Linked DNA regions of Homo sapiens: all the other regions are linked to region 3. Evidence: fine-mapped QTL for protein levels in blood plasma. A gene starts in region 3. Each other region holds a variant in brackets. All regions are shown on one strand. Distances are between the middles of the regions. Region 1 overlaps PTGFRN (prostaglandin F2 receptor inhibitor). Region 2 overlaps PTGFRN (prostaglandin F2 receptor inhibitor). Region 3 holds the start of PTGFRN (prostaglandin F2 receptor inhibitor). Region 4 overlaps PTGFRN (prostaglandin F2 receptor inhibitor).

Region 1 (7,585 bases), 45 kb after region 3:
GGAGATGCAGGGACTGTCAGACAACAGGAGCGGAGCTCTAGGAGGAATGGGCTCCTTTAACTGGAAGGGATTTGTTGGTAGCTGTGTTCTCCAGAGAGTGAAAAGAAATAAAGAGACTAAATTGTGGAAAAGGCTCAGTTACTATCCAAAGGATCCCGTCATTTGTTTTCCTTTGGAGTGCTACTACCATTGTGAAAGTCATCAGTGTGCTTTTCCTGACTGATGCTAACAGATACAGAACCTGCACCTTCCCTGCTGCTTTGCATGTAATAAGCACTCAATAAATATTAGCTGAACGGGTAAATAAACCAGTACCCACACATGGATTTTGTTAAAATATGTGCATAGGAAAGCTAGAATTGCTAAGAAAGCAGTAATGTTCAACTCCTAGGATATTCAGAGATATTTGCCCCTGAGTAAACCTAACGAAAGAGCGAGTAGTATGAAAAACAATTGCATTCTTTTTTTTTTCTTCCTCTTAAGACTTCTCCTCCTTCCCTGTGCCTATGACTCAGACCATTACAGCTGCTTGGACACTTGTCAGGAGCGGGTAGGGCATGAGCATAGCAGCAGACCCTTCTCAAAGACTTCCCCGCTGGACTCTGTCCAGAAGCCAGTGAGCCTGGCCTGACACTCCATGGTTGTCTCTAGATATGTAATGTGCATGTATATGCGTACGGATACCATACCACATACAACTTGGGACCAATATAAGGTAACCGAGAAGTGACCAAAAAAGATAGACAGACAACCTGACAAGCACTCTGTTGATATAGGTGGTCTTAGGTCATGTAACTCTGGAATGTTGTCACAGAAAAGTTTTCGAGAGAGTTGGTTTGCTACACAGGTAAAATGCAAAACTCAGTTTTGCCACTTGACAGATTAAAATGAATAATTACCATTTATTGAGCATCTACTGTGTGCCAGGCACTGGACTAAGGACCTTATATGCATTAAATGTTCAATGTGAAAATATTTTTGGCCTTGGGACTCAGCTTCATTCCTGAAACTCCAGAGCATAGTCCTAAGAGCTGGGTAGTTCTTGTCTTCATTTGCTTGGGGCTTGTGTACTGAGCTAGGTGAGGGGATTGAAGCTGATTGGGGTCTTCTAGAGTTCCACTGTGCTAAGCAGGAAGACGGGGCAATGACATGAATGGGCCTGGCAAGTCCAGAGCACTTGCAGCCACTGAGAGGATCATGATAATGTTTTAGATGTTGAGAAAAAACCTCTTTTACTTAGAATGTATGTCCTACTTTAAAGGGAAAGAAAAAAAAGATTTAAGTTGGCTTGCAAAATGAGGTACAGTTTAAAGCAGGAGACATAAAATCAAGATCAAAAGGGTAAAAGAAGAATAGATATTGCAAGGTGGTTGGTATGAATTAGTTATTATATTTGAGCACTGAATTTGCCTCTGAAGTTCTGAAGAGTTGAGACAAAAAAAAAGATGTGATTATACAGTTCTCCTCTGAGGAAGGAAAACATTAACTCTTTCAGCAAGACAAACTTTCTCTTGGCATTGAATTTATCATGTGCTTTTTCATTTTGGGGCATTGGAAAAGATAATAGACAGGGCTTTCAACTGTTCTTTTACAAAAGGCCCTAAATGATGGTTTAAATGGATGTTTCTTATATCCACCCTCTATAAAAGCTGAGGACATAAATCTTAAGTGTGTGAAGGGTTTCTGTAAGAAGCTCAATTACTATGGGGGACAAATGATGCTTTGTGTTGATCCAATTTAGTATATGTCTAAAACAGAGAACCTAGCAGAATGGCTAGTTAATCTGCACATTAAGCCATCTCCTTCTGCTATCAGATGTCTTAAATGAGCCTTTGGCAAGAGTTGGATACTAATCAGTTCATGGTTGAACTCTGCCCGAAGTACCAGACTTCTGTGGCGTTAATTGGAAGGGGTTCCACAGGCTTTGGATATAAGAGCTGGAGGAGGCAGAGTTGAGTTCTGCTGTTCAGTCTTAAGAACCTGATTTGCATTCTTCCCCACTGAAGGACTGGCCCCTCTTCAGCAGTGTGCCAGCAAGGAAGGTAATTATTTTATTTAAAAGAGCTGTTAATCTGCTAAGTACTTGGTAGAAACTTTAGAGTTCTGGGCCATTTATAGGCGATAAGATTTAGACCTGTAGGTTTTTTAAGGATAACTAATATCAGCTGTCTGTCCAAGATTATTCTGGAAGGCAGAAGTGCACGTGGCCAAGTGTTGGAGTCAGGAGACATGTGTTAGTCCTCCTTCTAGGTATGTTGCCTCGGGTGTGTCGATGAACATTTCCAAGTAAGTTTTGGTTTCCTGGTTTAATATGATAATGCATATAAAGTGCTTAGTACAGTGCCTGGCTCTTAAATGCTCACTGCATTTTCTTGGTGGTGGCGATGATGATTTGTTAGTGTTTGAGGGTCTTCCCCACCAAGTTCTTAACCAATTAAGACCTAAGAGTTTGTCTTAGGGCATGGAGGAGCCCAGCATAGAGGAATTAGGAACATGTGTGTCCTAAAAGCAGCTGCTCCTAAGAGGAGCTAGAGAAAGGGGTTGAGCTGACCACACCCAGCCCTTTTCATCCCTCTCAAAGCTAGTAATTCACTTTTCCTTCTCTGGGAGGAGCAAATGAGGATGAAGAAAGAAAAACTTCATGAATATTT[C/CT]TTTTTTTTTTTTTTTTTGAGATGGAGTCTCGCTCTGTCGCCCAGGCTGGAGTGCAGTGGTGCAGTCTTGGCTCACTGCAACCTCCGCCTCCCAGATTCAAGCGATTCTCCTGCCCTAGCCTCCCAAGTAGCTGGGACTACAGGGCGCCTGCCACCATGCCCGGCTAATTTTTTTTTGTATTTTTAGTAGAGATAGGGTTTCGCCACGTTGGCCAGGCTGGTCTCAAACTCCTGACTTCAGGTGATCCGCCCGTCTCGGCCTCCCAAAGTGCTGGGATTACAGGTGTGAGCCACCGTGCCTGGCCCTTCATGAGTATTTCTTTGGGTGCAGGGCATAGATGTTGCATTCAAATGATGTTATTTTTATTGCTCTGAAATGGCTAGTGCTCCATCCATCCTCATAATGGTTCTGCCACAGTAAGGTAATGAGTCTCCCCTCCCACCCCCTCCCAACAACAATAGCTCCTTATTTGTAGCCTTCACTCATTAAATGTCGGTGAATATTTAATTGTTATACAAATGGTGATCGTGGTGTCATTTTGACGATTGGTCAATATGCTCAGCTGCCTCTAAAGTACCTACCCAATTCAAAATAATAAAACCCTGTCATCAGCACAGGCTGAGTACTCCTTCTGTTTCTTCTAACTGGTGCATGCAGCCATTCATGTAATTAGCTGTGCCAAGTTAACTAAGTTTCAGAGGGGGTATTAGAACATGGTCCTATTGTACACAGTTCAGGATTAGTGCTTCAGCTGTTGTCATCACTCTTGTCTTCCGGGACGTAGCAGGCTTTGAGAAAGATTAATAACCTTGGTGTGTAAGGAGGTTGCACAATTTGATCATAGTAGGAGCCAGGCCACGGAGCCAAAGCCTGTCCTATAATTCTGCTCTCACACACTCTGCAAGGCCTTAGTCTTCTAACTTAGCTCCTCTAACTTTTGCTTTTTGTTTGTTTTTCATTTGGAAATGTACATGAAAATAGTACCAATCTTACAAGGTTGTTATGGAGATTAATTGAAAATGCAAGGAAAGTATATAGTGTGGTGCCTGGCATATGGAAAGCCCTTGATAAATGCTCGTTGTTTAGCATTATTATTGTAAAATGGGGATAATAATACCTTCCTTACAAAATTGTCATGAGAGTAAAAGGAGGTATTTTGTATGAAAATCTCTAGATCAGTCTCCTGCACATAGTAGGCCCACAATACTTGTTTTTACAAATTAGCCAGTGATTCTGAAGGCTTTTTATTGTTTTGAAAGTTGTGACAAAGGAGTCTAATGAGCCATTATTTTTAAAGCCTTTCTTTAGGGGAGGGTCACTCTTTTGGAGTCTGTGCATAGCTTGGGAGATGGTGTGGACATGAGCAGACACCTTCCTGGCATCCAGATTAGGGAGCAGATCCCTGCTTCTCAGAACGTTAGTGATGCTGCACTTGGACTGGCCTCAGTATTCTGTGAGAGGGCTTACAGTGTGTGTTGTTGTTTGTTTTTAACTTTTAAAAATAGAAATTTACAAATATTCACAGTTGAAGAAATAACCACCAACTTCAACAATAATCAATATTTTGCTGATCTTATTTTATCTCTCTTCCCTATTCCAGACACCAGACACACACAGACACACACACACAAAAACACACACTTTTTTCTTCTAGAAGAGTATAAAGTATATCCCAGACATCATGTCATTTTACTGTTAAACACTTTAGTATGCATCTTTAATGATAAGCAGTTTTTAAACATAACCACCATTGCATTCTTAGCTGATTTCTTGATGAGATCAAGCAGAATGTAGCAGTAATCAGTGGTGAAATGCCTGTGCCCAAAATGAGCATTTTAATGCAAAATATTAAATTTAGTTCAATTCAGCCAGTATGTTAGTATTTTTTATGTACAAGGCACTGCATGCACAGCACGTACAGAGAATCAAGGTGGCAGTCCCTGGCCCTGGGAAGAGTCCTGTGGAAAGCCCATAAGACATACATACGAATAACCAAAGTTCAAGGCAGGATTCACATAAAACCCTTAGAGAGCAGGGAGCTTGGCAGGTGGTGGGATTTGTTGAATACGAAATAGGAGTGTGACATGTGAGTTCAAAGGAGGCATTCTCCGTTGAGTAGGAGAGGATACACAGAAGAGGTATGTGCATGACAGGCCTTGAAGAAGGGCACAATCTCTGCAAACCATTTTTAAAATTGTAAAACAATGTTAAAGGACAATCTCTGTCCATGCACCAAAACAAAAACGAAATCAGAACCTGCTCCTACTCCTACCATTCTGACATGGTGGAATCATATCTTCTCCAGGAGTGTAAGTCTAAAGTTGAGCTACAAGGCTGGTGGATAGCTCAAATGAACCTGCCCCTCGTAAGTTCACAAGCCAAGAATCCACTTATTTTTGTTTGCCTTTGCATTAAAACTGAGGCCTCCTTTTCTGAGGCCTAAGGTTAGTTTTAAGAGAAAATGAAGAGACCAACTGTTGAGGTCAATGAAGAGATTTTTCTTTCCTTCCAAGCTGGAATTCCTATAGCTAGATGCACACATTGTGCAAGTCCCCCGTACTCTCATTCCGCTGTGTTTGGGTATGTAGGATTCAAACAGATTGATTTCAGGGTGGAGAATGGAGTAGAATGAAAGAATCTCTTCAGTCATTATTTAAACTACTTATCGAGCAGGTGGCCCAGGTGCTGAGGCAGACAGAGCAGCAGGAAGGAAGGCGGAGCATAGGAGTAGCTAGGGAATGGTGAGAGGTGCCATCTGAGTGGAGTTGAGAAGGCAGTGGGTGCTGCGGCTGGGTGCACGCAGTGGAGGGCCTCGAATGCCAGGCTGGGGAGCATTTTCTTAACTCAGTAGGTGAGGGAAGAAGCCATGGGAGGTTTATGGAGCAGATGCCCAAGCAGTCATGTCAGTCATGTCAAGTGGCAATGGGAGGTTGTTATTATAGTCTTGGCTAGAGGGAGTGAGGGCCAGGGTGAAGGTGTTCTTCATGAGGTTTTCACTTCTATTTGCAAATATTCATAAAGTGTCTACTCTGCATCAGGCCTGAGAACAAAGAAATGGAAGAGACACTGAGGAGGTAGAATGTGCGAGACTTAGGAACCCTCAGAGTGGAGAGGTGGAAGGGAAGGGAGAGCGTTGAAGATGGCACACCTTTGACACTGAGTGACCTTGAGAATGAGTGGCGGGAATGTGGTAGCAGGAGTGGTTGAAAAGTTTGGAGGTGGGGCTGGCTGTGTTTGGAACAAGGTTTTAACTCTCTCTCTCTCTCTCTCTCTTTCTCTCTCTCTCTCGCTGGCTCGCTGTGTGTGTGTGTGTGTGTGTGTGTTTGTGTTTGTGTGTTTGCAGAGGCAGATGTGGAGTGAGGTGAATTCGGTTGTGAGCGTGCTGTAGTAAAGACGCCATGGATGCTCAGTTAGAATGCCCAGACCTCAGCTCAGGCCAGTGTTTGGGTCTGGAGGCTAAGGAAGAGCTGGGTTTTCATGTCTGGGGGAGTGAGCTTTGGGGTGTGAGCAGGCCAGGGAGTGGGAGGAGAGAGAGAGCTGCCCAGGTGATTGGCACAGGAGCTAGTTTTGACCACCTTTTCTGTGTGTTCTGTGATCTGACCACTAATAGGTCAGTCAAGTCACTCCAACATGTTTTTTTAATTGACAGATTAAAATTATATATGTTTATGGTGTACCACATGGTGTTTTGAAATATGTATACATTGTTGAATGGCTAAATCAAGCTAATTAACATATCCATTACCTCACATACCTATAATTTTTTGTGCTGAGAATGTCGAAGATCTGTTCTCTTAGCAGTTTCCAAGTATACAATACATGGTTATTAACTATAGTCACAATGTTGTACAATAGATTTCTGGAACTTATTCCTCCAGTCTAACTGAAATTTTGCGTCCTTTGCCTAGCATTCTCCCCTCTCCATCCCCCAGCCTCTGGTAATCACCACTTTACTCTCTGTTTCTATGAGCTCAGCTTTTTGACCTCCCACATGCGAGTGACATTATGTGGTATTTGTCTTTCTGTGCCTGGCTTATTTCACTTAACACTGTCCTCCAGGTTCATCTGTGTTGTCGCAAATGGCAGGATTTTGTTCTTTTTTTTTTATGGCTGAATAGTAGTCTATTGTGTATATATACCATATTTTTTTAATCCATTCATCTGTTGATGGACACGGGTTGATTCCATATCTTGGCCCTTGTGAATAATGCTGCAATGAACATCTACCATCTTTCATCATAATTTTGACAGCCTTTGAAAAGGTGCCACTCTGAAAGAATCTGCACGGGGGTGGAAGTAAACCATTAAGGATCAAAGGGTCTGTCACCTGTGAGGAGACAGAAGAGGAGTCCCCACAGGCAACTTCATGGTGTTTTGGATCACACTGGTCAGTCAGGCTGAGGCGAGGGCCTGCAGGGAGCTGTCTTCTGGGTCACATTCCCTGTGGCAGTAACTTAGTGTCATGGCAGCACTGCACTCAGCGTTCCTAAAAATCATGTGTCAGTCAGTGGAACTTAGAAAATATGAAGTTTAGAAGACAGTAGGTTTGGTTCATCTGTGAGCTAAGGATGCACTTGAAAGGTGGTAGAAGACAGGGCTCCGTTCCCATCTGCCACTTTTGAACTGTGTGGCCAAGTCACTAACTTCTTTAAAGCTCTCCCCTCAGAAATGGGAACTGTGAATAATGATCACAAATATATACACGTGTATGTGTATATGAATATGTGTGTACCTGCATACACACACACACCAGGCACCAGTCTAGGCATTTTAAGTACAGTATATTTTAACTCTTAACCCTCACAATAACATTATGAGCTAGTTACTGTCATCCCCATTTGTATGGGTGAGGCACCAGAGATCTGAGTAATCTACCCAAGGTCAATAGCAAGTAAGTGGCAGAACCAGGATTTGAACACAGTCTGGCTCCAGA
Region 2 (7,585 bases), 55 kb after region 3:
CTCTCGTTCAGAACCAGACTACCAGGTGTACCTGAATGCTTCCAAGGTCCCCGGGTTTGCGGATGACCCCACAGAGCTGGCATGCCGGGTGGTGGACACGAAGAGTGGGGAGGCGAATGTCCGATTCACGGTTTCGTGGTACTACAGGATGAACCGGCGCAGCGACAATGTGGTGACCAGCGAGCTGCTTGCAGTCATGGACGGGGACTGGACGCTAAAATATGGAGAGAGGAGCAAGCAGCGGGCCCAGGATGGAGACTTTATTTTTTCTAAGGAACATACAGACACGTTCAATTTCCGGATCCAAAGGACTACAGAGGAAGACAGAGGCAATTATTACTGTGTTGTGTCTGCCTGGACCAAACAGCGGAACAACAGCTGGGTGAAAAGCAAGGATGTCTTCTCCAAGCCTGTTAACATATTTTGGGCATTAGAAGGTAGGAACTTTTTTCTTGTTATTCATTTTTGTTTTGTCTTTGCTTAAGTCGTGCCGCTGTGTGTTGATGCACAGTCACCCTCTGCAGGTTATCACTTACACTAGGAATGTGTGTCCTGGACATTGATCGCCATGCGACCCGTTGCACATGCTCTTTGGACTCACTATCACCCCTCCTCTGTCCCCAAGCCCCAGAGAGGTCCCTCTCCAACTCACTGTCAATCAGCCAAGTCTCTTGTTTCCTGAACTTTACCTCTGAATGTTTCTTTTCTCTTTCTTGCATTAAACATGGTGACTCTGAGGACACTCTTTCCCCTGGAGAAACCGTTACCTCTCTGAGGACAGTTTCCCCCAGAGCCCAACTAAGTGATGCCCATTTTCTTCCCACACTTCTCATAACTGGGCCTAGAGGTGTGGGGCAGGTGCCCTTCTTGATCCTCCCTGCAGCTTCCAGGTCGTTTTCGCTCACTCCTAAAAATATCTAGCTTCGAATCTCGTGTCATCATCACACCATACCACCTCTTCTTGTTACTATTGCCTGTTGCCTCCTAGGTCCTCCGTTCATTCTTTGAAGATGTTAGCGTTTGTTTCACGGCCACTCTGTCTGACACTGCTCCCATCTTGCTAACTTCAGTATCTGTGTAGAGCACTGGGTCACAATTGGAAGCCCCCTAGGAACTTAAAAAAAATGCTGGTGCTTTGTCCCACCAGAAATTCTCCCATCCAGATACTAACCAGGCCTGACCCTGCTTAGCTTCCAAGATCAGACGAGATCAGGCGGGTTCCACCAGAAATTCTATTTTAGTTGGTCTGAAGTATATGCATTCTGGGCACTGGAATTTTTAAATGCTCCCACAGTGATTTTCATGTGCAGCCAAGGTGGCGAACTCTAATACAGTTAATCCTGTCATTCTTAGTTGCTTGTCCTCCTCTCTGTAGTCATCATGTCCTCTATCCTATTTGGTCCTACACTTACATGCTTATATGCTACATTAGACCGTCTCCCTTCTGATAACTGAAACCCCTCCACAGTCTCAATTTCAAGCATCCTGTTCTCTAAACATATCTCCTGTCTTTCTGTACCGCTCCGTCTAGTACTCCAGCAACAATCCCCCAACCTTACTGGGGCCAACAATCTGTTAATCCTACCACCTGACATCGTCCTTCACTGCCATTGTGTCTTCACGTCTCTCTCACTAGGGTGCCCATTTGTAGTCCAGCGTACACCTGGAATGGTGTACATTATGATAGCACCTTCTTTCATTCTCAGAGCTAAGGCTGGGAGGTAGGGGTAAGTTATGTGGTCACCTACTATTACCTAGCCTAAATTCCCAGTCAGTTTTAATCACTCCCTTGCATACACCCCTAGCTTCCTTCCCCTCTCGGTTTGCATTAGACTGTGGCCAAACCACAACCCAGTTCAAAGGCAGCTTTCTGCAGCCTCCCTACCTGTGCCCACAGAGCTAATGTGGTTGGAGAGAAACATTCAAACATGTTGACTGGTCTCCCTTTAAAGTAGTGGTCACTTGTGACAAGTGGGCTCTTGGCACTGCGTGGGAATTATTCTGCATTTCCTTAGTCTGTTTATTTCCCCACTCTCCTAAGTGATTACTGCATACCACCTTCTGTCTCTGCAAACCTCCTCCCACAGCTTCTCTCTCAGCTGTTGGCCCTGCTTCCTATTCTCCTAAAAGTAGAAATAATCAGGAGAATTCCCATTCACGCTGCCCCAGGGCTGAGACCAGGTCACGTGGCATATGTCCTGGCAGAGGCCAGCCCCTCTCACTACTTAGACCATGGCTGCTCTCTCTTATGTCTTTGGTAATTCTCTCCCTTCTGGACCTTTCCTATTGGTCTGTCAATGTGCTGTTAGATCCAGGTTTCCTTGGGTTTTTTAAGAGGGGGTGGGGAGTGAGGGTTGTGGTATTTTTTGTTGTTTTAGTTTTGTTTTGTTTTTAGAGACAGTGTCTCACTCTGTTGCCCAGGCTGGAGTACAGTGGTGTGATTGTAGCTCACTGCAGCCTTGACCTCCTGGGCTCCAGTGATCCTTCCACCTTAGCCTCCCGAGCGGTTGGGACTGCGGGTGCTCACCACCACATTCAGCTAATTTTTTTTTTTTTTTGAGACAGGGTCTTGCTCTGTTACCCAGGCTGACATGCAGTGGCATGATAATGGCTTATTGTAGCTTCAGCCTCCTAGGTAGGTTAAAGTTATCCTCCCACCTCAGCCTCCCAAGTAGTTGGAACTAGAGGCACTATAGGCCTCTATCATCATGCCTGGCTATTTTTTTTTGGTAGAGACAGGGTCTCACTGTGTTGTCCAGGCTGGTCTTGAACTCCTGACCTCAAACGATCCTCCTGCCTTAGTCGCCCGAAGTGCTAGGATTACAGGCATGAGCCACCGTGCCGGGCGCCCCCCCTTTTTTATGCTAGTCTTGATCTTCCTTCTTCATCCGTCTTTCTGTTTCCCACACCCATTTGTCTACTTATTACTTTTTCCTTTTATAACAACAATATTTGACGTATATATACTCAGTGTGTCTGGTTTTTCTCCTTCCATTCTCTCTGGTACCTACTCAAATCAGGCTTTCCCCTCAGCTGCTTGTGGTAAGATGGCCAGTAATCATCATATTGGAAAATCCTATTGTCAGTTATTTTCTTTGACTTAGCAGAATTTAACGCAGGTGATTCCCTCCTCCTGGGAATGCTTTGGTTTTTCCCTTGGCTTGTGGGACACTGCCTTCTCAGGGCTTTCTTCCAACTTTATTAGCCATTTCTCAGCCTCCTTTTCTGGCTTCTGTTCATTTTTTGGACCCGGAAACATTAGACTACCTCAGGACATAGTCTTTGGACATAGTCCTTGGACTTGGACTTCTTTTCTATTTAACCTCACCTTCTTGGTGATGTCTCTAATCTCATCAATTTAAATACCATCTAGAAACCAGTGACTCCAGATTTACATGTCTACCCCAGGCCTCTTTCCAGAACTCCAGACTCAATATTACATTGCCTCCTTGACACTACTTGACTAACAGGCATCTCAAGCTTCTGTTCAAAAGGACGCTTCCCATCACATCTGCCAGCTCTCTTCTCCCAGCTTTCTCCAGCACCAT[T/C]GTTCTAGTGGCTCAGCCCAAAACCTTCATCCTTGACTGCTCGTTGTTAAAATTGACTTAGAATCTGGCTACTTTTCACACTCTGCCATTTATGGCGCCACCCTTGCCTGGATTACATCCCTGGCCTCCCAGATCGTCTCCTTGCTCTGCCCTAGCACACAGCAGCTGGAACAATCCTGTTAAATATAAGTCAGGTCCTGAAACTCCTTCACTCTAAACTTTCAAAGCCTCCCCATCTCACTCAGAGCAAAACCCAGAGTCCTCTAAGTGGTCTTAGATGTTCTGTACCAACTGGTCACATTACCTTCTGGCCTCACCTAGCACCCTCCCCAGCACCCACTCCATCCAGCCACTCTGCCCTTCCAGGCTCCTCAAATACACCAAGTGTGCTCCGGCCTTGTAGCTTTCTGCCTGCTGTTCCATCAGTCTAGAATGCTCTTCCCAAGATAGATAGGACTTGCTCCCTCACCTCCTTCAGGTCCTTTTTATTTATTTTATTTTTAATTTTAATTTTATTTTTTTAGAATCACAGTCTTGCTCTCTCACCCAGGCTCTCTCACCCAGGCTGGAGTGCAGTGGCACCATCATAACTCGTTGTCGCCTCAAACTCCTGGACTCAAGCCTCTCAAGTAGCTGGGACTATAGGCACATGCTCTGTGCCTGGCTAATTATTTAATTTTATTTTTAGAGGCACGGGGTTTTGCTATGTTGTCCAGGTTGATCCCAAACTCCTGGCCTCATGCAATCCTCTCGCCTCAGCCTCTCTAATCAGTGAGATTACAGGAATGAGCCACTACACCCAGCTCAGGTTCTTTTTAAAATGTTGCCTCCTCAGTGAGGATGTCCCTGATCACTCTATTTACGGTTGTGGCACACACACCTTCCTTCCAAATACAAATCCACGCTTTTTCTCTTCCTTGGCTGCTTATTATCTCTTAAACATTTATCACCATATAACCATACCATATATTTTATTTGTTTATTTCATTTGTCTTCCTTCACTGGCATATAAAGGGAGGGATTTTTGTATTTATTTGTTCACCGTTATGTTTCCAGTACCTGCAGTATGGAAGGCTGTCAATAAATATATGTTTAAATTGATGAATGAATGACCGAACTCACAGGAAAATCAAGAAAGAATGTGGTGGCTCAGTAGAAGCTCAGCAGTCAGTGGTTCTGGAGAGAGTTCTTAATATACATGTTCTGCTAATCGGTTTGGTGGAACAAGTGTTCCAAAAAATCTAACGTAAAAATCTCATCTTGTAACTGGATGGATTATAGGATTAATCATCTTATTAAAGGATAAAAAGAATGTATCTAATTCATTTATTCATCCACTCAACAAATATTTAAGCACCTTCCAAGTGCCTGACGTTGTGCTACTATAATAGATGAATTCTAATGTGTACATGCATAGGCATTGTTGTTTTGACAGAGACACAAGGAGTAATCCACTTAAACCTAAAGTTAGCGTAGCCATAGACACCTCTCAAAATGTTTAAACAGCATTTCTGAAATTAAAGTGTAAAGCAAGTGGAAATTATTAGATCTGCAAATACATACGCTACAGTCATTTTAGCAATACATCTGTTCTGTAATGTCACTATCATATGATTAAACAGGGAGAATTCATTTCTCCCTTGCTGCATTCCTCCCTGCAGGCTAGCTTAGCTAGGGGCACTTCCCCTGCACTTAGCAGACCCCTGGGGAGGAGAGGCAAATGGTATGGCCAGGAGCCTGGCTTGGAGGTCATGGTGTTGTGTTCAGCCATGTCTTTCCCACCTTTATAGGAGTGTCCTCTGCCTTGCATCTTTTGGAGCACCAATAGCGGGTTCCCAGATTCTTCCTGGTGAAACTTCTTAAGGACTTAAAAATCCTTAAAACCAGTTCTCACCATAATTTCCTCTCTCCTGACACCCACTGATTCATTTCAGACTATTACTTTCAATGGGGTGGTTTTAGCCTGCTTATAGATACACATGATTTTCTTTCTGAGTTTCCAGATTTTCGTAGGTGCTTTTGTGTGGCAATTTGCAAATACATTTCTGTTTCTTGGTTATTTTGCTTTTAGTTGCATTTTTATTTTAACTGATCTTGTTGGAAATCACATCCTTCTGGTCATTCATTCCAGATTCCGTGCTTGTGGTGAAGGCGAGGCAGCCAAAGCCTTTCTTTGCTGCCGGAAATACATTTGAGATGACTTGCAAAGTATCTTCCAAGAATATTAAGTCGCCACGCTACTCTGTTCTCATCATGGCTGAGAAGCCTGTCGGCGACCTCTCCAGTCCCAATGAAACGAAGTACATCATCTCTCTGGACCAGGATTCTGTGGTGAAGCTGGAGAATTGGACAGATGCATCACGGGTGGATGGCGTTGTTTTAGAAAAAGTGCAGGAGGATGAGTTCCGCTATCGAATGTACCAGACTCAGGTCTCAGACGCAGGGCTGTACCGCTGCATGGTGACAGCCTGGTCTCCTGTCAGGGGCAGCCTTTGGCGAGAAGCAGCAACCAGTCTCTCCAATCCTATTGAGATAGACTTCCAAACCTCAGGTGAGCAGTGAGCCCTGTTGAATCATAGGTGGAGCTAGAAGAGACCCTAGGGTTTTGATCAGATGCCCTCATTTTTTAAAACAGCTTTGTTAAGATGCAATTCATATGCCATACAATGTACCTGTTTAAAGTGTGTAATTCAGTGGCTTTTCATATATTCACAAAGTTGTGTGATCATCACCACGACCAGTTTTAGAACATTTTCATGACCCCAAAAGAAACCTGGACCCCTTAGCCAATACCCTCCATTCACACTCCATTCCCCACCTCCCATTCTGCAGCAACCATGATCTACTTTCTGTCTCTATACATTTTGCCTATTATGGACATTTCACATAAATGGAATATAATATGTGGCCTTTCTATCTGGCTTCTTTTTTGGAGCAAAATGTTTTCAAGGGTCATCCATATTGTAGCATGTATCAGTGCTTTGTTCATTTTTATGACTGAATAAGATTCCATCGTATGGATATCCCACATTGTGTTTATCCATTCATCAGTTGATGGACATTTGGGTGTTTCCAGTTCTTGACTGTTACAAATAATGCTGCTGTGGACATTCATGTACAAATTTTTGATGAATGTATGTTTTCATTTCTGCTTTCATTTTAAGAAAATGAGCTGAAGCTCAGCTACTTCAAATACTTTAGGGAACATAGTGGAGTATAAAGAAAGAGAGGAGGGAATTGAGCCTCCCAAGGTGTTAAATGACTTGCCAAAGTGGAAGATCTTTAACATCCTCTGTCTGTGTATGTGTGTGTTTCAGTAGGAAGATGATTTAAAAGTATTTAAACCCCAATCTTATTTAGAATATGAATGCAAAGGATTATCATTTGTGAGTTTAATACTAAGTGTTTTCACTAACTCTGCCCTGGGTTCCTGGGTTTTAGTTAGAAATTTCTGAATGTATAAATTAATACTTATCTGTAAAAATTCAGGTGTCAATTGAATCATACAATGAATGCAAGATATTTGTTGAATTAAATGATTAGCATTTATATTAAAGGTAAGCTAGACTCTAATAAAGTTTTTCTATTAATATTATTTTCTATTATTATAGCCTTTTATGGTATATAATATATACCATAGTGAAATAATCTTCTAAGATCTCTTGACCTTTAAATTAAAGGGTAAATATTGATTTAAGCCCTTAGATTTGGAGAAAGCATAGGCCTCCTTTATTGTGTATCTGTTTGTTTTTAATAGCAGCTTTATTGAGATATAACTCACATACTATAAAATTTACTATATATAGAGTGTACAATTTAGTGGTTTCTAGTATATTCACAGAGTTGTGCAACTATCACTACTATCTAATTCCAGAACATTTTAATCACCTCAAGAAGAAACTCCACTCTCATTAGTAATCATTCCCATGCCCCCATGCCCTTGCCCCTGGCAACCACTAATTTACTTTCTGTCTCTATAGATTTGCCTCTTCTGGGTGTTTCATATGAATTGAATCATATTATATGTGGACTTTTGT
Region 3 (7,585 bases):
AAATTAGATGATAAGCCCCTCCAGGGCAAGGGCCCTGTCTGCTCGTAACATAGGAAATAGCCTCAGTCTTGGGGAGAGCTTTTATTGCCAAAGGCTCACCTCCATCCAATTCCTTATTTTCTCCTCACACTTCTCCACCCCAGTGTTCCTGCAGGCGTGATGCTATGTGGGGTAGCTTCCCAGGGAGGCACTTTTGGCCTGGTGGAGGTGGAATCTGGAACAGTTCTAAGTCATTTAAGAACACTTTCTCCACCATGTCCCACTTCAGTCTTTTAGGGCTGAAGAAAAGATGGGGAGAATTGATAGTTGGGTGGTGACGAGCAGGACCAGCCCTCAGGCAGGACCCTGCTTAGCCCATACCAAACAGATGAGGTCCCTTGCTGTTTTCAAACTTGTCACATGAGCATTCTACAGCTTCCCCACTAATCTCACCAGTATTGCAGGACTCTCACTCGTGGGGAAATAAAGGCCTCCTCTTCCCACCCCTCCCTTTCTAACTTTTAATTTCATTTTCTAATTCTATAATATAATCCTAAATTTCTTTTTGTTTAGTAATCTCTGTTTAACTTTAACTGGGAAAATATACATCTGGACACAGAACAAGGAAGACTGTGAGTGAAAATGATTAGTGGAATGAAACGGTGCCATGGAATATACTCCTTCCCCTGAGCCCCTGCTGAAGTAGGTAGGGGTCAGGGTCATTTGGAGACTGTGTGCGTGTACAGGCTGCCAGAGGTGGCAGGGCCAACAACTCCAAGTCTAGGTGAGTCTTAGAACAATCAGCAATTTCATTCACTGGGAACCTTTTAACATTTTCATTCACAAAGTTAAATAACATGATGATGTTTTTGCCTGATCTCAGCAGGGAAAACTTGTTTGGCGTAACAGTATGAGGACTCTTGTGAGGTTTTAGGGGTATCACCTGCAGAAAGACATGTGTGACCAAAAGACCATAATGTCGGACTGCTGTGACCAGTGCCCCTTGGGGGCACTATGATTGGAGAAAAGAAACCCATGTCGGTACTCTCCTTGGGGGTGGGCGTGAATCAATTAGAATTGCTGGAGAGTGAGTCTTCCTGCCCCAGGCAAGCCTATAGACTAAGATAGGAGAACAACTGGTTGGGGCAAAAGCCTTACCTGTATAGAAGGTTACTCACTCTGGTAAATAAATATCTTTCATAGTAAAAGCATCATCAGATTCCAGAGTCATGAATTAACAAATTGTGCCAGTCTGCTGTGTTTCTTCCTTTATCCATTGGTAGTCAGGAAGGTGCAAAGGGTGTGGTGGTTATAACCAACAGTCTAGACTTATTAATTTATGCTTATTTTTTGCTACAAAAGTGGCTCTTTGGTTAACTCCCATGACATTTAACTGCCAGCCACCAGCAGGCTACCCACTTCAGTCCTCATTCTACCTGCCTTACCTAGACAATTTTATTTATTCTCATCATTTCAATGGTTAACCACTGTTATTTCCATGATTGTAAGATACACCATTAATTTAATAATACCTGGGGGTGGGTGAGGTGAGAAGAATCTCTATCATATTAAATACACAACATCTATTGTAAGCTTATCCTTACACTCCACAGCTAAAGACCTACCAATTTTTCAAGACTCGTTGCATAGTCATCCCCTCTGTGAAGCTTTCTCTGACAGCCTCCTCCTGGACTGGCCGCTCCCTTGTGGTGTCACAACTCTACCTTGCATATGCAATCACAATGCACAAAATGTCGACTCCTCAAGGGCAAGAACTGTCTGCTTCATCCCTGTACCCCCAGGATCTAGCCCAGTGTCTGCCATTAATTCACTCTATAAATATACATTGGGACCTACCATGTGCTAGGCACAGTCCCTGACACACATTGTTTATTAAACAAAAGAATTTTTAAAACATCTACTCTGCCATAAGGTGGGATACAAGGTGAAAATGTGACAGCCTCTTAGGCCCATGCATTATTAGACAGAGATGGGGGTAGTGTATACATTTTGCTAAACTGAATGTGACCAAGTGCCACAATGTGTGGTTCAAACATTAAGCGTTCTGGGTGGTTAAGAAAAGGAAAGATGGAGGATGAGCTGAAATCTGAGCTTCTGAAGGTGCCAGGCCTCACATTTCTCTGAAGCTCCACTACCTTCCAAGGCCTAACATTAGGCTTGAATTCAAGGTTGATTGAATGAAATTGGGAAACTTCCCTGCGAGATTCTAGGGAAGAATTGGGATGGGGAAGAGAAAGGAATTACAGTGTGTATGAACAGAACCAGGAAAGGCTTGGCGGCAGAAATAAATTTTAAAAAAATTATTGTGTAAAATGTACATAGCACAAAATTTACCATTTTAACCTTAAAAATTTTTTTTTAGAGACGGTGTCTCACAATGTTGCCCGAGTGGTCTCAAACTTCTAGCCTCAAATAAAAAAAAAAAAGAAAGAAAAAAGAAAAAGAAGAAAAAGTGCCAGCCCAGTGGCTCAGACCTGTAATCCCAGTCTTTGGGGAGGCCGAGGCGGGAGAATCGCTTGAGCCCAGGAGCTCGAGACCCGCCTGGCCAACATAGGGAGACTCCAGTGTCTACAAAAAATAAAAACAATTAGCGAGAGTGTGGTGGCACACATCTGTGGTTCCAGCTACTTGAGAGGTGGAGGTGGGAGGATTGCTTGAGCCTGGGAGGTCAAGGCAGCAGTGATCCCTGATCGCACCACTGCACTCCGGCCTGGGTGACAGATCCTCATTTTGAGACCCTGTCTCAAAAATGAAAGAAAGAAAGAAGACAAAACAAATAAAAACTCCTGGCCTCAAGCAACACCATCCCTGCCCCCCGCCTCCCCCTGCCCCCCCAACCTCAGCCTTCTGAGTAGCTAGCATTACAAGTACCAGTTACCAGGCCTGGCAATTTTAAACATTTCTAAGTGTACCATTCAGTGGCATTAAGTACAATAACGTTGCACCACCAGGAATGAATTTTTAAGTCTCTTTCCAAAGATACCTGGCTAATCACACATTTGATAGTGGGGAAATAAGAAACATTTGTTGGTTGAAAGACGGATGCATGAGAGTAAAAGCAGTGTTCTTCCCCAGTGTGGGCAGTTTCCGCATAAGCATCTGCGATCCGTTTTGCATGTGAATGAAAGCCCAGTGACGGGCAGTGGGCACCAGTGCTGCTCCTTGCGTGTTTGAATCATGCTTGCTAAGTTTCAAGCAAGGAATGCTCCATTTCTCCCAACCAAGTCGGGCCTTTTGTATTCAAATCAAAAGCACAAAACTCTATTGTAGGGGGAAAAATGAGTCTTTATTGGCAATCAGTGGTGTCCACTTAGAGCAATAAATATTAAGTCTTAAGAGTACATTCTATATGAAGTACTATAGCTATTAATACACTTGGGTTTTGTTTGTTTTTTAAATGGGTGTCTTTGTGGGGTGCTGTTCTAATCAGTGCCACAGGCGCCGAGGAGAGGGAGGGAGCTGGGTAAGGAAGGAGACAGGCCCACCCTAGCCACCGGGGAGTGGGCAGAGTCAGGAGAGCGGGGTTCTGATTTTGCCCCTTCCCTGTGAATCCTTGGGCACCTCACCGAAACACTTAAGGCCTCTGTATGGTAGAGGTTGGAATCCGTGGCCTTTAAAAGTCCTTTCAGCTCCTTCGCTCCTATCTGCATAATTTTTGGCATAGGCCAAGCGGCTGGTTGGTGGGGTGTTTAGCTCAGGACGAGAGGCCGAACGAGCGGGGAGTTGGCTGAGGATAGACTAGACACGCGTGGGTGACTCCAGCGTGATGGAACGCGGGGTGTCCCGGGATAGGGCTAAAGCGATGGGATTTCCAGACGAGTCTTTCCCAGGCCAACTTTTAAAGGTCGGAGGAAAGTTTCTCGTGGGGTGGGGGCCCAGAGGGGATGGCAGGGTGGGCTCCGACGCCTCCTCGCCTTTAAGCGGGTGGCCCCGGCTCTTCCTCCGTTACCTGGAGCGGGGAGGGGCTTGGGAAAGTTTGTGTTTGTTGCTGGCAAAGCGCCGGATGGGAGGCGCGGGCGGGCGCTGCGGTTCTTCCCTTCTGCTTTCGGGAAGCGGTCGGGGCTGCACACTCGGATCGGCGGGGCCGGCTCCCGGGCCCGGCCGGCTGGAGGAGGGAGGGAAGGAGGCGGGAGGGAGCGAGCGGAGCCAGGGGCGCACGTACGCCCCAGCGCTGGGATTTATCGGCTCGCGAGGAGAGCGGAGCAGGCGCGCGGCCCAGGCGGAGGAGCGCCGACTCTGGAGCAGCCGGAGCTGGAAGAGGAGGAGGAGGAGAGGCGGCGGGGAAGGAGGAGGAGGGGGAGAGTCGCTCCCGCCGGGCGAGCATGGGGCGCCTGGCCTCGAGGCCGCTGCTGCTGGCGCTCCTGTCGTTGGGTGAGTGTGCGCGGGGCTCAGCGGGGCACACGGGGACTGGCGAGGCCCTGGAGGGCTCGGCGGGGCGCGGCTGCAGCGCGCGGCCTGGGGCGCCGAGGGTGCCCGGGCTGCTCCCGGGAAACCCGGCCGGGGTGCGCGGGTTGTTCGGCCCGGCGGGGAGCGGCCGCGGGGCCGCCCGGAGCCTGGCGCGAATCCGCTCGGGCCCCGCGCGCGGGGTGCAAGTGGCCGCTCCGCCAGGCCGAGCCTCGCCCCCAACATGTGCCGGGGGGAGTGGCCCGGGGCCGTCTTTCCCCCAGGTCTCCCTACCTGTTGGCCGCCGGGAGCCCGGCTCACCTTGAACTCCCGGCCCGGAAGGTGCTGCGGTCCCGGCCCGGGTCCTCGGCTCGAGAGCGGAAATGTGAGCCTTTGATATGCCCCGCCATAGCCGCCGCCGGCCGGGTCGCTCTTCACCCAACCCGCGCGGAGTTGCCTTTCCAGGGAAGCGAGAGAATCCTCCAACTTCCTTCCACGAAGGTCACAGGGTGGCCCGGAGCGTTACAATGGAAATCGGCGGGCGAGTCCTGCCGTCATTTTCGTCGTGGCTAGATCTTCTGCCTCAGTCTTTTCTTTTAGCTTTTCTTGAAGCTGCCTAGCTGCGTATTTATACACAAAGACCTAAAAGCCTGGCTTCTCCAACTTTTTCTACCTGTTACTTTCCCTCCCTTACTATCCCCTCGTCTTCCACCCTCCGGAAACCCTGGGTGCCCCGTGAGGTTTTGGCCCAGCGCCCTCCCCCCACCCAAGGAATCTTTTGTGGGTTTTTTCCCTCTCCATTTTCCATTCACTCCATACACAGACACCATCTTCACGTAGATCCACATGGTGATCCTAGCCAGCCACGGAAATATGTTTATTAAGTGCCCACCATGGTACCCCAGGGCCGACTCTTAAATGTTTTGATATTCTTGGATCCTTGTTGTCAGTGTCAACCAGGACAAGATGATTCCTGTGACCTGGCCTGGGGTTCTCTTCCAAGCCCCTAGAGAAGGCGGCTCTGAGTCTTTCACAGAGCGCATGATGTGCGGTGTCCGTGCCATTCAGGTCCCAGCTGCACACAGGGCAAATGATTACTCTGCACTTATGGTCAGAGGGTTCCAGAGGAGGCCTTCTATAGCTACTCCCCTGCTGGGGACACCGGGGCCCACACTGCTGTAACCCCCATGACTCCTGCTGCTGATGAACCAGCCTTGCTGGCTGCTGTGTTTTCTTCCTTCACCTTGAAGGGATTTTCTGAACTGACTCCCTCAGAGAGCTCGTCCAGCCACATTGCTTCAGCTTCAGCCCATGTGCAGAAAGCTTCCAGATCTTCCACTTAGTTTTATGGCATCTTTTCTATAGTCCCTGATCCTAGTGCTTTATTTTTATTTTTGAAACAAAGCCTCAGTCTTTCACCCAGTCTGGAGTGCAATGGCACAACCACAGCTCACTGAAGCCTCAAACTCCTGGGCTCAAGTCATTCTCCCACCTCAGTCTCCTGAAGTGCTGGAATTACAGGCATGCTCCACCACACCCGGTGGTAGTGCTTTTAATCTTTACTTTTCACTCTGGGACCCTTGTAAGTTGTATGTTAGTGGCGCACTGCTGTTATAGTCCACACACATTAATTGACTTTATGTGTCTGGGTCAAGCAGGGCCATGGCCTAGGTTTGCACAGATGGTGCACTGTACAACTTCGGGAGCTGCTGTTCACTTTGTAGTCTGTGTGAATAACTCCCCCTAGAGCTGTGCAGTTCTCTGAACAACCTGGGTACCAGTTATGAGGGTGGGATGAGGTAGAACTTTGAAAACAATGCCCTTGAGTAATAATGAAGGGAGAAGAGGGGAGGGGGCAAAGAGAGACTGACAAAAACAAAATAGAAGTGGGGAAAGCACAGCTTGGGGAAATCTTGATTGTACTCCAGCATATCCTGTCCTGGCTGGATGCCTCCTATGAATTACACAGGGAATTTCTGTGGTGTCACCAGCCAGTACCTTTTCACCTAACAGTTCTCTGAACCATTGATGACCCTCCTGATAACTCTGCTGTCACAGAATCTCACTCGGTGTGGCTTCAGCCTGACCTCTGGGAAGGTCTCGCTGTGTTACACTGCTCTGGCACTGTACTGATCCCTGAAATGTAATATGTTGATAAACAAGATCATCTTTCCTCCTGGGGTGTAACCTGGGTATAATCGTGGTATCGCTGCTCTTTTTGACCTCCATATTCACGTAGTCTCTCAATTCTTGGCTCTCCCCGTACCACAGACTCCAGCTTCTTTCTTTCCTTCCTGTTTCTACGGCTACTGTCTTAGCCCAGGTCCTGATTGTTTCCCACACAGTTGGTGTCTTCCTGGTTGATTATTTCCTCCAGCCTCCCTTTTAAGCTCATCCTTTTCCTAAATGATCATTTTTGGGGCTCCCACCTGTTCTCACTGTGTCCTTATGAGTTTCCTCCAAGGAGATGTTGCCCCTTGTGTGTCCCTCCCCTCTGGTCTTCTCTGGCTCAGACACTTCGTTCCAACTAACCTGTTTGCTCTCCTTTATGTAGACTATATTAAACCTTCTGGCCCCTTCTACTTCTCACCTCTTGCCTGCGTATTAATATTTCCTTTTTCCCTTGAAACTCACTTTCTCCATGAAGCCTTCCTAAGCCTACCTACCATGATCACACCAGAACCCACCCAGCCACATAGAGCAGGTTTCACATCCATTGCCTATGTCTGACCTGTCTTGCCCATCCACTCAATGTGGCATTTCTTGAGTGGCCACTCTGTGTGCAACTGTGTGTTCAATACTGGGAGTCCCAGACAAATGACAAAGACACAGCATCTCCCTGAGCGGCTGGTGGGTGTGAGTAGACAGAGAATAAAATAGCTAACCACAGGACTGAATGAAATACCTGACATGGAAACCAAGTGTGGGAAACAAGGAAGGGGATGATTAATTTTGACTTGGGGGTTGGGGCTGGTTTTGCTGAAGAAGTGACATTTGAGTTGAGCCTTGAGGATAATTAGAATTTTGAAAGAAAGGATAGAAGAGCATTCTGGGCTCTGGGGAAAAGCCTAAAGTGTGGATGAGTGAAAGTACATGGCTCATTGAGAAATGGCACGTAAGTTCCCTGTAGCTGGAGCTGGGAGGAGGAGGAAATAATGGGGGTGCAATTATTTGGGGGAGGAGGAAATAATGGGGGAGGAAA
Region 4 (7,585 bases), 37 kb after region 3:
CACACATTCAATTCTCTGAACCCAATCAAAATAGGGCAGAATATTTCCCTAATTTATACATGAGGAAATGGAAGAGCATAGGTTAATTACTTTCCTAAAATCACACAGCTAATTAGTAAACGAGCAAGAACAAACCATTTTAATTTGGGGCTAAGAAAATAGAAACATTATAATTGTTGTTATTGTTACTTAATTATGCATTTATTTGTACCCTGCCTTGTTCCCAAAAGGATTTATGTCTGGGTCAGAATGTATGTAATTATCAGAAAGTAGAAAATGCACATGATGATATAAAAAGCGAGGGTTGATTGAGGCATTCATTCCCTCATGACTTGTAGAACCCTGCCATAGCTCAGAGACTGTTCCCTCACTAGACTCATCAGGGGATAAAACTGTCCATTAAGGAGGTAATGAAACACCCCATCTACCTCTTTATTCCTATAGAAAATTCAGAACATGTTATTTAGAAAAAGACACTCTTGTATTGGAGCTAAATATTGCCACATGCCACTTTTTCATTAAGCCAGATGCCCCCTTGTATCCCCTTGGAGTCTCCTCTTGAGTGGGAGGGAGAGTAAGGGGAGAATTCCCCCACCCGCACCCCACTTCCTCCAGTATCTTTCAGCCTCTTCTGCTGTCTTTGGAAGGCAGGAGACACAAGAGGAGGCCTTTCTTGGGTGAGGAAAGCAATGGATGACCATGAGAGAGACTGACTGCTGCCCAGGTGGAGCCTCTGATGGTTGCCATGTGTGGTCCAGGATCTGCCCGGCCTTCAGCTTCATGGCTCTTGAAACTATTCATCTGTGCTCTGAGAGATGAGCTGGCCTTGAGAACTGAGTCATATTAGCCAGACTCACAGACTGATACATATACTAGAAGGTCATTATATTTATTTTGCAGTAGAGATGGGTCTTCAGGATGTGTCCTCCTAAAAATGTAGCAGCTTTTAAATGTTATCTAGAATAGCCCCTTCTCAAGGACACTGAATTAGTTTCTGAATATGGAATTGGGGGGAAAAAAAAACAGATGATGAATAGTGGTGTTGGAGGGTCCTCTTAGCCAGCTCATGGATAAGCCTGATAGATTTTTCCCTGCTGCTTGGTAGTGGCCCCCTTTCTGGTTACCAGAATAGCAGTATCCATCTACTGCTTTTTTCCTGAGTACACCACCCATACTTCCTTGATCGCCGTCCCCTTTTTCTAGACTCTGTAGAAGTGTCTGGGCCTGTTCCTATCATGTGGATATGCTGTGTTCACCCTAGACATTCTTGGGCATTCCCCAGGCTGCAAGCCACAGGCAGCTCATGCCATCCTTTCTCCCCTGTGGATCTTGCTACTTTAAGTCTAGAAGGTCACCTTATCTGCAGATTCTGCGGGCTCCCTAGCCTAGCCCTGGTCCTAAGCAAAGAAATGTTTGACAGTCATACCCAATGATTTATCATGACAGCTGAGTGCCAGGCACGGTCCTGGGAACTTACCCTGTTTAACTTAACTCTCATGTCAACTCTATGACGAAGGTCCAGTTGTCATCCTCCTTTTAGGAAACTGAGGCACAGAGGGGTAAAGTAACTTGCCTTAAGGGTAGCAGAAGCACATCACATCCCCAAGGCACGACTCCCACAGGGAGTTTTTACCACCCACTTCTAGCATGGGGTTTTTTTGGTACCTTTATTTTTCTTTTTCAAGTCAGAAAGTCAATTGAGATTACAGATGAATCCAGTTGGGAAAACGTGCCCATCCGGGTCTTGGAATGGGAAAGGGAGGAGGAAATTGTCTGTGGTTGCAGCGGTGGGCTGGCCCTTGCCGGCTGGGGTCGGTGTGGACGGGCTACTGACCTAGCTTTCTCTCTCCGCAGTGCTGGCCGACTCCCTGCACGTGGGCCCCAGCGCGCGGCCCCCGCCGAGCCTGAGCCTGCGGGAGGGGGAGCCCTTCGAGCTGCGCTGCACCGCCGCCTCCGCCTCGCCGCTGCACACGCACCTGGCGCTGCTGTGGGAGGTGCACCGCGGCCCGGCCAGGCGGAGCGTCCTCGCCCTGACCCACGAGGGCAGGTTCCACCCGGGCCTGGGGTACGAGCAGCGCTACCACAGTGGGGACGTGCGCCTCGACACCGTGGGCAGCGACGCCTACCGCCTCTCAGTGTCCCGGGCTCTGTCTGCCGACCAGGGCTCCTACAGGTGTATCGTCAGCGAGTGGATCGCCGAGCAGGGCAACTGGCAGGAAATCCAAGAAAAGGCCGTGGAAGTTGCCACCGTGGTGATCCAGCCATCAGGTGAGCTGGAAACGATGCGTTATAGGTGATGTTATTTTGTGACTAATGATAGTGATACAAAGAACCGGGCCAGGGAGCCCCATGGCCTTCTGACAAGAACTGTTTCTGCTTCCCATGTGAGGCCTTATTTTTAGGGGTGAAGGGAGTAGGGTGTTGAGAGGTTGGAGGTGGGCGGGGTTACATTTGTTTTGTGCTGAGGATGCCTGTCGTTTTGCTTCGCAGCTGCTTTTATCTAAATTCATGTCCATGGAAAGCCACAGCCTGCACATAACACGAAGGCAGATCTTTCACTCAGAGTTGAGGTGCTGTGGTCCCTCAGCCAGATTAGGTAGGACTTGGTGTTCAGTGGAGCTTTGGGGTGAAGGTGCCACACCCTGCCCCTAAACTTTATCGGGTTTGATGTTTCCTGAGTCCTTTGACGTGCCTTTCTCTGCAGCTGTTGGAGTGTGTGCCTGGCTCATCCCAAAACCTTTCATCTAACTTGTATCCTCTAGGCCTGCCTTTCGGTCCCCTCAGATGTGCTTTTCCTGGAAGGGGGAGGAGCTCTCTAGGGCAGGGCCGCTTCTTGCTTTCCTGTATCATACAGACCACAGGAGCATCCAGTCCTGGGGTCTGTACAAGAAGCCCTTTGTCCTGTCGTCTGTGAATCAGCTTTTTTTTTTTTTTTTTCAAACCCTCTACTGCAATTATAGAAGTAATTAAGAAAATACAACATGCATTTTAGAAAACACATAAAAATAAAAGGAAAACATGGTCTTGTTGACTCATTGTCCAGCCAGCATCAATGGAGGACCTACTGTGTGCTCAGCTCTGTTCTGGGCCCTTGGGTCAGAGGTATTTGAGGCTTGTTCCCAGGCCCTGTGGAGCTTTAGGCTTCACAGAGACAGTGTAAAGAGACCAAGGAAGGGCAATGTCATTGCTCAGGATGAGTGGATGTCCTTGGTTTTCTGCAAGTCTGACATCTTCAGATCTCAGAGTACTTTGCTGCTGTTGCTGCTGCCTTCTGTTTTTTAAACTGGGAAGACCTTGGTTGTTGCACTCATTTCCTGAGCATGAATGTGAATATGTGGTGGCTCTGTTACTCAGATGGGAAGGAAAGCAGGAAACAACACGCAGGGGGAATATTTTGTCTCTGAAGGTGCATTGTCCTGAGCTCTTTACTCTGCACTTACACCACAGCACAGAGCCTGGATTTGGAAAAGTGGGTGGTGGAAAAGCAGGTCTGAGGTTCTTGAGTGACTATGGCCATTGAGGAGAGGAGCTGCTCATTACTGGTCAGTCTGGGCTCCACTGGCTGCAGAAATCGCTTTCCAGATGGACTTAGGTTACCTTCCTGATCAGAAGTGATCGCTCTGCAATCTGCCCTAAGAAACCTCTAGATATTAAACTTGCATCAAACAACTCTTAAGAGTTTCAGCTGTGTAGAAAGTTTACGCTTTTTTGGAAGAATTTGAATTGTAAAGACATTTTTTGTTTCAAACACACCATGAGACCTATAATATCTAGCTAAGAGACTTGAACACTGAACTTATTAGGCAGGTAATATCTGGCTCTCAGATGAGACAGGGTTCATAATCTTTTTGTGCCATGAGACTTTTCGACAGCCTTTTGAAACCTACAGACCTTTTCTCAGAATTAACATGTTTTAATTCATAAAATACAGTACACAAGATGACAAAGGAAAATAATTATATAGAAATCGTTATCAAAATACTTGTAAAGCAAATTGATTTTGTAGTAATATGCTGCTTTATTAATGCATTGATAATAAGATAGTGGCAGGCTTAACAACTGTACTTTCTGAATAGTAATGAGTATACATGATATTTCAGGATATCTGCAGCAACTGTAATGTGATTTCTATTTGGGGTAGTTCCAGACACAGGTAATACTACACTGGTTTGTTGCTTACTTTCACAGTGGGAGGAGATGCTATATTTCAGGTACAGATTAATAAAAATAAAGATGGAGTTTTTTTCCCATCCAAGTTCACAGACTCTAAATTCTCTTTGTGGATCCCAGGCTAAGAACTGTCACACTAGGCTGATGGTCCTTCTCTTCTTGTCCACACCTGCACTATCCATAGCTGGCTGCTTATATATTCTTATCACATTGTTATGATAAATGGCGCAGAGTGAAGCTGTGCTACCCATGTGGCAGGGAGCCTCCTCCCCAGCCCCTCCTCCCTGTCATGGGAGTGGTCTGGTTGCTGCAAACTTTGTCTGATTTATGGATTTAGTTATATTCAGGGACAGAGAACCTGCCCCACCACAGGCTTTGCCTGAGGTCCCTTCTTTCATTACAAATACTTAGAACTGGTCCTTTTTTTCCCTTTAGCCTACTCCATCCTGTCTCTCAGCAGTAAACTCCCAAATCCAGAATGTGTGGGACCTCTGGTTAGTGATGTGACAAGATACTGAGCCACTTGCACAGAGAAAATTACAAAGTGAACTACACAGCTGAAGAGACATCCCTGCCAATATTTTCTGAACCTGAGACTCTGTTTTCTCCATCCATACAGTCCACAGCTGCTTGTTAAGTACTTC[G/T]TCACTGACCCGACTCCCTCCTGAGTCGTCTTTTACTTCCAGTAGCTGAAGTCCTGGCAGAGGTGACTCCAGCAGGATTCCAGGGTTTCTGGCCACAAGCTTTGACTGTAGAATGGTTCAAACTGCAGAGCCTGGCTCAGGGCAGCAGTTTCCATACTTAGTCCTCACAAATGATACCCTCAGGCTACTTTTGGCCCTTTTAAAGAGATGATCGAGAGAAAGAATTAGGAGACTAGGTGGAAGGAGAAATTGAACTTTTAAATTGCCTTTTCTAATACTGTGCCCACCTTATTTTCTGTCTTCTGTCTAGCTGGATCTTGAACTTGACTTGAAATATTTGTTTGAAATATTGTCAGGCTTTGGACATATTCATATGAAAGTAATTTACGCCAAGGAGCACGGGCTTTGGAGTTGGTCTTTTCTGAATTGGGTCCCTGAGCTTACTGGGGCCAGCGCCATGCCGTTGATGCCAGCGACTTGCTAGAAGGCCAGGGCTGTGCCTCTGCTTGAATCCCCTGGGAAGTGCTTGGTACTTGTCATCTAAGTAATTGTTCCCGGACATTTCACAAGTTGATGTTTTTCTACTCAGATTACAGATGCTCTTTTAAAATCTTCTGAATAGAATAAAATGTTTCCATGTGAAAGCTTTGACAGGGGAATGCTGGAACTAGATCTGCCTTGAGTCTGTGACACCAAATACTTCAGTGCTTCATCTAAATATAGTCTACTTTTAATTATCCACACTAATGAGAAAGGACAGTAGTGCAGATAATCCAAAAATCATCGTGTTTTAGTTTTAGAATATGTTTTATGATTGGCTTTTATGTGGGAATGTCTAAGAAATAAATTATACTCTCAGTACATTACATTTTGAAGACTTGACTCAAGGAAAATTGTCTGGTTTCACTTTCCTGGCCCTTCTGTTTAGGATTTTTCCCTTTTATCCCTTAGACAGTTTCACCCTCACTTCTGCTGCCTTATTGCCTAGCCCCCAGCTAACAATATGTACCAGTCAGAAGCAAGTCTTCCTTTTCTGTAAAATCACCCAAGTTTCATCATGCACATGGAGAATGTATAATTTTAGTTTTACAGTCTTCAATAGACTGCTTATCAAAAGATAGCATAACAGTGAAGAGCAGAGTTTCTAAAGGCAGATAGCCTGGATTTGGATTCCATCTCTGCCACCTATCAGCTGTGTGACCTTGGGCAAGTTACTTAACTTCTCTGTGCTTCAATTTCCTCATCAGTAAAATTAGGCCTCTTAGGGTTGTTTTGAGGATTATTATATGTAAAGCACTCAGAACACTGCCTGGCATATATAGCAGATATATGTAAATGTTTGCGGCTATTGTTGTTTTTATAAAATAAGAAGAAATGTGGTATGTTCTGTTAATTTATTCATTAAATATTTCTCAAGCACTTACAACTGTACAAAGCCTTCTAACTTTAATGCTGTAAATAAGAACTTAAAAGGAGATGCTTTAAAGAGGGTGGAGAATAGAAGGGGCAAACATAATCAGATTACCTAGATGTATTTGTTTTTAATTTTCAAGTTCTGCGAGCAGCTGTGCCCAAGAATGTGTCTGTGGCTGAAGGAAAGGAACTGGACCTGACCTGTAACATCACAACAGACCGAGCCGATGACGTCCGGCCCGAGGTGACGTGGTCCTTCAGCAGGATGCCTGACAGCACCCTACCTGGCTCCCGCGTGTTGGCGCGGCTTGACCGTGATTCCCTGGTGCACAGCTCGCCTCATGTTGCTTTGAGTCATGTGGATGCACGCTCCTACCATTTACTGGTTCGGGATGTTAGCAAAGAAAACTCTGGCTACTATTACTGCCACGTGTCCCTGTGGGCACCCGGACACAACAGGAGCTGGCACAAAGTGGCAGAGGCCGTGTCTTCCCCAGCTGGTGTGGGTGTGACCTGGCTAGGTGAGTGGTTTGGAGAATGACTCTTAACCTCTTCAGCTTAACCCCTCCTCGGAGTTATCTGAAGGAGTTATCTCAGGAGGCTCTGCGCTTTGCATGACTTCGACATTATTTCTATTGGTTCATGCATACTTTGGCCCAGATAGATCCCAAGCTGGGGATGAAATAGAATCTGGCAGACAAGGGAAATGTTTAGATAATGTGGCCTCAGTTGTCTCAATACCCTCATTTGAGAGTATATAGTTTCCTTTTGTTGTCGACATTTGCAGGGTCAGGGCACTGCTGAATGGCTCTTTGAAATGAATCTTTGTTGGAGGGAGAACACTGCCATTCTTCCTTTGTTTCTCTTAGACTCCTAGGTGCTCCCTGGCAGGAGCTGGTGCTTTTCCAAAGCCCAATGCAGAAAGATAATTCCTTCAGTTATTAGAAAGCATTTTTTTTTTCACGTCACGCCCTGGAATCCCACAATATATCTGTATATACCACTTACAACTAAAGGGCCCGCCTGCTTCTATAGGCTTGTTTTGTGGACGCTCTCACCCCAGGTGTAATTTCCCCAGTGGAGGAGCAGAGTAGCTCTCAAGTGTTGAGCACCTTGCCACCCATTTTATAACAACCTGCCGTATATGTGGAGATCTTTGGCATGTCCTCTTACTTTATACTAAGCTCCTTTTCCCCTACCTCTTTTTTCCCTAAATGTTTGCCCTCTGGGCAAAATGTACACTAACTTTTCCTAATTTTTGTTATGTCTTGTAATTGCAAGTAATCAAAGGAGGGATGGGGTCAAGCTGGGTGTGGAAAGCTTCGCTCCCCACCTCCATTATTACAGAGATGGGACAG

Evidence for each region. PIP is the chance, under the fine-mapping model, that this variant and not a neighbour inherited with it causes the effect. Protein levels are from the aptamer-based SomaScan assay of Sun 2018.
Region 1: its variant is fine-mapped to the plasma level of the PTGFRN protein (Sun 2018, PIP 0.95).
Region 2: its variant is fine-mapped to the plasma level of the PTGFRN protein (Sun 2018, PIP 0.95).
Region 4: its variant is fine-mapped to the plasma level of the PTGFRN protein (Sun 2018, PIP 0.95).

What each region holds. Positions count from the first base shown.
Region 1 is chr1:116,951,202-116,958,786 of GRCh38, forward strand. All of the region lies in intron 4 of PTGFRN (prostaglandin F2 receptor inhibitor), which reads left to right. Among named protein-coding and RNA genes, the nearest start is that of PTGFRN, 45 kb to the left of the region's middle. The variant C/CT (reference allele first, on the strand shown) is at 2,652.
Region 2 is chr1:116,961,232-116,968,816 of GRCh38, forward strand. It overlaps PTGFRN (prostaglandin F2 receptor inhibitor), which reads left to right. Exons shown (of 9, transcript NM_020440.4): 5 at 12-437; 6 at 5,680-6,099. It also overlaps the pseudogene RNA5SP55. Among named protein-coding and RNA genes, the nearest start is that of CD101, 37 kb to the right of the region's middle. The variant T/C (reference allele first, on the strand shown) is at 3,549.
Region 3 is chr1:116,905,882-116,913,466 of GRCh38, forward strand. It overlaps PTGFRN (prostaglandin F2 receptor inhibitor), which reads left to right and starts at 4,035. Exons shown (of 9, transcript NM_020440.4): 1 at 4,035-4,371. The coding sequence starts at 4,323.
Region 4 is chr1:116,942,825-116,950,409 of GRCh38, forward strand. PTGFRN (prostaglandin F2 receptor inhibitor) reads left to right here. Exons shown (of 9, transcript NM_020440.4): 3 at 1,855-2,268; 4 at 6,368-6,748. Among named protein-coding and RNA genes, the nearest start is that of PTGFRN, 37 kb to the left of the region's middle. RefSeq lists a silencer at 4,409-4,609. The variant G/T (reference allele first, on the strand shown) is at 4,815.